Linked DNA regions of Homo sapiens. The protein of the gene in region 2 purifies or fractionates together with the protein of the main gene of each other region. This does not show direct contact. Each region holds a gene or a part of one and is shown on either strand. Other genes may lie near its edges.

The links.
Region 1: the proteins of STRN (region 2) and SLMAP purify together in Homo sapiens (affinity purification with mass spectrometry; 5 studies listed by BioGRID and IntAct, with this or other methods). This does not show direct contact.

The regions. Positions count from the first base shown.
Region 1 is NC_000003.12:57,927,296-57,930,648, reverse strand, and holds the end of SLMAP (sarcolemmal membrane-associated protein), read right to left. Parts: coding exon of another isoform or gene 3,261-3,353; 3' UTR 646-3,260; downstream 1-645. UniProt on the Homo sapiens protein: Associates with the striatin-interacting phosphatase and kinase (STRIPAK) core complex, forming the extended (SIKE1:SLMAP)STRIPAK complex.
Region 2 is NC_000002.12:36,840,917-36,844,674, forward strand, and holds part of STRN (striatin), read right to left. Parts: 3' UTR 1-3,758. UniProt on the Homo sapiens protein: Calmodulin-binding scaffolding protein which is the center of the striatin-interacting phosphatase and kinase (STRIPAK) complexes.

The DNA of each region.
Region 1 (3,353 bases), on a different chromosome or scaffold from region 2:
GCGATCTCGGCTCACTGTAACCTCCGCCTCCCAGGTTCAAGCAATTCTCCTGCCTCAGCCTCCTGAGTAGCTGGTATTACAGGCACCCACCACCATGCCCGGTTAATTTTTGTATTTTTAGTAGAGATAGGGTCTCACCATGTTGGCCAGGCTGGTCTCCAACTCCTGACCTCAGGTGATCCACCTGCCTCGGCCTCCCAAAGTGCTGAGATTACAGGTGTGAGCCATTGCACCCAGCCAAGACTGCAGTTTTAACTCAGTTGATTTGCATGCAGTTTTTTCTCTTTGGTAGCAGATTCCCATCCTTTTGATAGTAGATAGTCACTGGAAGCAGCCAAGAGTCACCAGATTTTGGTCAAGTGTAGTGATTAAAGTGAGAGATCAAGTAGGCAATACTAGTTTTGGTTGAAAGCCTCTGACTATAGGGCAACGTGAATGGTTTTCACATGTGACTCAAAGTGGCTCTAAAGGCAATAACAACAGGAATTCCAAAACCATTGTGGGCAATTGGTTCATCACCAAACCAAGCATATTACTTCCAAAAGAGTGAACTATGAAGGCGACAAACAGAGCTAGGTGATAATGCTTTCTCAGGATTCATAATGTTACACACATATCTCACTCATACACAGAAATTCTGAATGGTTGAGTCAATCAATTCATTTAATTAAAGTAGATTAAAGTTTAGGCTTACCTAAAACTTTAATATTTGCAATATTTTTTCAGTATGACATTCTCATAAAAACGTATTCACCACTCGAATGGTACTTCACATACATTATCTTTTTAATGTTCACACTACTACCACAAATATAAGTATTATTCTCCGCATGTTATAAATGAGAAAATGGAGACTCAGAGAAAATGTGATTTGCACAAGGCAACAACATCTGATAAAAGGTAGAACCAAGATGCCAATACAGATCTGTTTTGCTTCAAACACCACGTTCTTTTTATTCTCTAACCCTGCCATGTAGCACCTTTGAATAATTCTTAAATGTATCATTACAGGGTTGTTCAATTTTTAGCTGCAATGCTTAATATTTCTTAATGACTCTATTATTACCAGTGAATAATCCTATTCTTTATTTAACGTGGAAGTGAACTGAACAAAACTGAAGGTATTGCTTATGAACAGACTTATTTCTATTCTTGAGGAAAACTGGAAGTAACTACAAAAAGCCATTTATTCCACTTGAATGAAGTAAATATTGATACTAGACCTTACATTTAAAGAGACCAGTCTAGCAAGTGACTCTCATTTTAACAATAACCATATTAAAAGAGAAAAAAATAAAGCAGTAAGTTAAATAAAAGGTTAATAAAACTTGGAGGAAACAGCTCAGTGTTTTCTTTTAAACCCTGAAGAATACCAAATGTATGTTATGTTGCATAAAGAGTCATGTCAAGAGAAGACTATTAACAACCCAATAGTAGAGTCAGCATTAAGAACTTCAATGATATTCAACTCAAACATGCGTAGGGAGAGTAAAGTTATTTTATTAAATCATGCACGTCACGTGTGTTAGTGCAAATAGTTTAATCTGTACTCCAGAAATTCTATTGTACTTTATATCTTTACAAAATAGATTTAAAACAATTATTTACTTTAAAAAATGTAATTCTGAAGTTAAGCATTTCAGAACAATATTTGCAATAACCTATATACAAGAGGTACTGGGTACCACTGGCATATTAGCATTCTGTGGTGGAGTGGCTTCCTGCAACAGAAAATGATGAAATGAACTATATGACAGTATTTTCTACAAGTCATTTGTGACTAATTCCTCCATAAATCTAGTGATCTTCCCAAAAGCAATCTCAAATAGCTTAAAATATAACCTTTAAAGTATAAACAGTGACTGCCAAACATCACAAGGCAAATTATACCCTAAACTCCTATTTCAATATTTGGCTAGACCTGTGGATTGCCACAGAACATTCAAGCCAATTCACTGACATTCCCTCCCGGTCTTCACTGACTGAAAAATTTAACTATGTGATACTTTAGGATATTCTATGACCTAAATAAACTTTATTGACATAACTATGATGCCGCACAAAACCATGGCTAAACTTTCACTTGTGTTTTAAATTTATAATATCAAGCAGTGTTTTTAGGTGCTTCATTGTGCATAGAACACTATTAATCTTGGGAATAGTGCTTTTCATTAACAGAAAGTCCCAATTAACAACAATAAAAAGAAAATAACCATTTGCATACCCAACCAGGAAATTTGTTGGTAGGTACAACGCTCACCCTGAACATGAATTAGCTCTGACACATCATAAACCAAATTAGGTCAATACAAGCTTATCTAAAGAGATATTAATACTTTCTTCAATTAAACATGCTTGGAGGAATAGATGATAGAAAAAAAAAATCATGCTTCCTAAAATGCTGTATATGAGAAAGTAACTTGGCTTTTAAAGAAAAATATCTCTTTAAATACATGGTTTAATAAATTACATTCCAATTGACTCAACATTTTGGTTGACTGCACTGAAATTGTGTAATTACTATGTTTTTGCTCCCAGAAATACTTCAGTTTGCTCAAGAAAATACACTCTCATGGAAAGTTTTTCAAAGTTGATGTCCTCCACATCTTCAAGTCACATTAAGGCTGAACAAGCGTGCACATATTCCCCAAATTATCACCATAACAGTTTATTTTCCAAACGTATTTTTCCTTAAAAAAAAAAAAATCCACGCAAATAGTTGTCTCTAAGTCTTGTTCCCAATAGCTCAGTGGTTTCATAACAAGTAAAAATGGCGTAAATATGTAAAAAATATATATATGTGTATATATTTCAAACTGATAGGCACTGAGCACACAGGGCCTCTCTTCCCATGTATGTATTGGTTGTTTGGTTTGGGTAGTTATCAAATCAGAAAAATGAATTATCTGGTGATCAGAATTCAGAGTAAAATACTCATAAATTTAATGTTATAAATAATCTGGTGTACCAAGAAGCCTACTTTAGGCCACCATAATATTCAGAATCTTAACATACTAATTTAAAAATTACATGAAAAATTGCAAGCAAATTATTGCTTACAGTAGAATAAAGTCACAATTTTATATCTTCTTTATAGACAGATACATTTTATATAATTTAAAGCAATGACCCTACAGCTGTATTCTTGTACTTCTGCTGTTTTAAGAGGTAAAGAGGAAGAAAATGGTTCTGTTTGTCCCCAGCATGAGTGTGATGCCAGCTTCTAGAGGGAGGACGGTGTACGGACTCAAGGAACGCTCTCATGGAGAAGCTCTGGCCAGACCTGGCACGTACAGCACGATGGCTGTTACTGCAACCAGGGCAGCCAACATGGGCATCCAGGGCCAGGGTTT
Region 2 (3,758 bases):
TGTATTCCAAAAATAATTTCTGAAAATCACAGGAAAGAAAACTTTTGTGTATTTATTAGCAGAGGCAAGCTATACTATCAATTGGACACCTCAAGGGCACAAAATTGCCTGGAACTACAACCTTCAAGTTCAAAATTTCTACCTCCAGAAAGCAATGATGTTTCTAAAGATTCTCTTATTTTTTAATTGTGATTAGTAGATGTGTATTCCTACGTATTCTACAGCAATGAGAAATAAGGAGCACATTCTTTTTTTTTTTTTTTAATCAAATCGATTCTGACAAAAGGAGTTTATTGTCTTGCTTGTTAAAAGGCTGACCAAAAAGAAAGTAAGTCTGAATGTTTCAGAGTTGGGAGAAAGCCTGATTCCTTCTGACCCTGAGATATACAAGGAAACTGAACAAATACCAGGCAGCAAAATACTGAGACATTTACCACATAAGAAAGCATTCTTACATAGCAGTTGAGTACTGGGAAGGTTGTTGGGGAGGGTATTATTCACAAACAACTGTCAAAAGATATGAGACCACCGAGTTTTTCTTTTTCTAAAAATCACACTGAGTGATATTATTCTATCAAGAGGATATTCTGAAATACGTGGGCTATCGAAAAAGATGTAAGTACATTTTAAAAATGTTTTTAAAAGCATAGTCAAAACCATTCAAAAGAGAACTCACTCTGTAAAAACGATTCTCATATTTTTTCATGAGATTATCACTTGGCTACTTTAGGATATTTCTTACATGCCTGGTCTTCATCCTGACATATGCAGATGACACAAAATACTTGGGCTTATATTTTTACAGCTTCCTAAAATATAATGAAAACTATTTCCTCTGACACTTTGCCATGGGGCTCTAGGATACTTTTGATATATTTCCTAAAAATATTTAATTTAGATAACAAGGACCAATGACAAGCCAGAATTGGAACCATTCATTCTTTGAGGTCAGAAGTGGTATACTGCCAGCCCATTGAAGTTGAAATGGAAGACAATGTGGCTCAGGCCACAGGGTCAGTTGCTTCTCCTTTTTGGTAAGGTACTTCTTTCCCCACACTCTCACCCAAGTTATCCAGCCCCCAAAATAAACTGTTTCTGATAAAATTACTTTTGCTCTAAGTTAATTTTGTTTATGCATGAAAAATTATTGTCTTGGTCCCATTTCCAAAGGGAAGTAGTTGGATGCCAGCATACTTTAACATTTCGGCACATATACAAACCACAAGCTGTTTATTTCTACAACTCACGATTAATGTAAAACGTTGCTTTCCATGTGCTTTTTTTTCTTAAAGTTTTCAGTTTGGGCATATTTAATTGTGGATGATGGGTTTCCCTACCATTACCCTTAATTTGATGCTATTAGAATTTTTAAAAATCTTTTGTTTGAGGCAATGAATTGGGAACCTGGTACATACACTAGATTTTATGATGGCATAAGAAATTATAGCACATAAATTAATAACACTATAGTACTCCAAGTGCTGTTTAACAGATGTTTTACTGTGGGCTCTCCTTTACATCACTGGGTTAATTACCTAAAGAGGGACACAGAAAAAGTCAATGTGGAGCTGGCATCTGGACCACTCTTCACGTAAGGTGAATGGCTAAATCACCAAGGACAAGATACTTTTCTATGAAATAGGTCCTTCCTATCAGTAGGTTATTGCAGACTTTGCTCACCCAAATAATGACTTCCAATCTAACTGAAACTACCATTACCTTTAGTGAAATATCAATTAGGAATAAGGAAAGGGTTAGGTTTTGTAGGGTTTGAGTGATACTTAGAAGCGAGTCATTTTATGTTTGGTGGGTTTTGAATCATTTGATATACAAAACTTACTGAGTTAAAATTTGTGTTTCAGAAAACGGATTCCAATTTTCAGAGCCGTATGTCAGTGCTTCCTTAGAGAACTGGAGTGTTCTGGTCATCCTGAGAAGTAACAGGCGGAGGGATGCTCCATGATTATAATGTTTAGGTTAAAAGGTATGCTTGACTCCCAAGGTGTTCTGGGAATATTTTATGTGCCAGGACAATGCTGGGGCCCTGCAAAACATCAGTGATCTTGGGAAACCCAGAGGAGGTCAGAATACTACCTGGCAATCTTAGGCTGACCCCAGGAGGTTCATCAATCCGTGAATAATTTTTGGAGTTTTAATGACCTCCTGAGATAGATCTCCAAAATTACTCAAGCTAATCATGTCTCAGTTCTCATTAAAAAGATAAAAGAGGTGTTTCCAACACTACTGAAAATGTGTGTACATACCAAAGGATATAATACTCATTAGTATACCAGCATACAGAACACCAAACAATGGTGGATAGTTTCAAGGATATCAGAAGAGATGCCTTTTAAATTTCATATTGTATTGTGGATCCTGATTGGAACAAAAAGACTGTGAGTTCTGGGCAGGCCAAAGGCCTTGAAAAATAATGTTGATTTGAAGGGGCAGGGAGTGTGGAAGGCTTGTGTATGTCTGTTAAGTAGCGAAACAAAAAATAAAAACATTGTATTTATATATGTGTATAAATTTTAAAAGCCATTTAAACTGAACATTTGAAAAACATAAAACCTATTCATTAAACATATGTGTCTCTGAAAGTACCACTGACCCAATCCTAGAAGCTATTTTAATTTGGCTTTTCAGAGGCCCAAATTCTCTATAAACTTCTCCTTCCTCACAATCAGTAATTAAGACTGGTTCATTAATTTTGGACTCATGTATACTTTGTCTAATATCCTTTTATTTCTCTGCACCCCTCTACAACTCCTCCCCCAAAAGCCCCAAATCAGACTATGTTAATTTAACTGATTACTGTAAAGCCACAGCTAGATCCCAAATCTGACAAATATTCCAATTCATGAGACACCTATAGCATGTTATCTATATTTGTACACTTTATTTAAAAACAAATAATACACTTAGAGCCACCAAAGATGGATATCTTAATTAGCTTATCCATACCCTGAATTTACATAAGAAACTTCTTGCACCACAAAAATTAGCATTTGGATTAATTTACATTAATTGATGTAACTAAAATTTAAAATACCTGAAGATCAAACAATCTGGCCCAGGGCTCACCAGCTGGAGGACTGGGTGTGGAGAGAAAGGGTTATTTAGGAATCTGAATTGATGACACCCTGTGGTCAGCTCTAGTCAACTGAACTTGAGAAAACATAAAGTAACCAGCAGATTTCAATATTAAAAAGAAGTGGTTCCTCCTAAAAAAGGTATTAGATCATAGAGTTGGGATTAGGGTAGGGGATACCTATTAATCTGGGCTGGAAAAAAAGTGTGTGGAGAAGGGGAGTTGTATTGTTTTCTCACAAGAGGCAAACTTCAGCCAAACAATGAAGAGATAGTAGGGAGGGAGATGTGTGGTAGACCAAAGACTTTCTGATTGCTGATAATAACAAATTTAGCAGCTCTCTACAAGTCAATTAAAATACCATTCTCTGAGACATTTTCAGAGAGGAGCTAACTAACACCCACCCAGGGGGGAAAAATCATTCTACATTAACAAGGCACTCACTGGTTCACAGCCTGTTAAAAACCCAGGCAGACATTAGAATCTAAATTAAAATGATTTTGAAAATTTGCATCAGAGAGATGACAAGCATGTGGTCCTGGTTAAATTAAATCTAAAGCTTGGATTAGCAAAGATCCAGAAAATTCTGACCCCCTAAGCACCACTTTAGGAATACCGCCAGAATCAATGAGTGGGATCTAGGGATCTGTTTGGCCTAACATTTGTT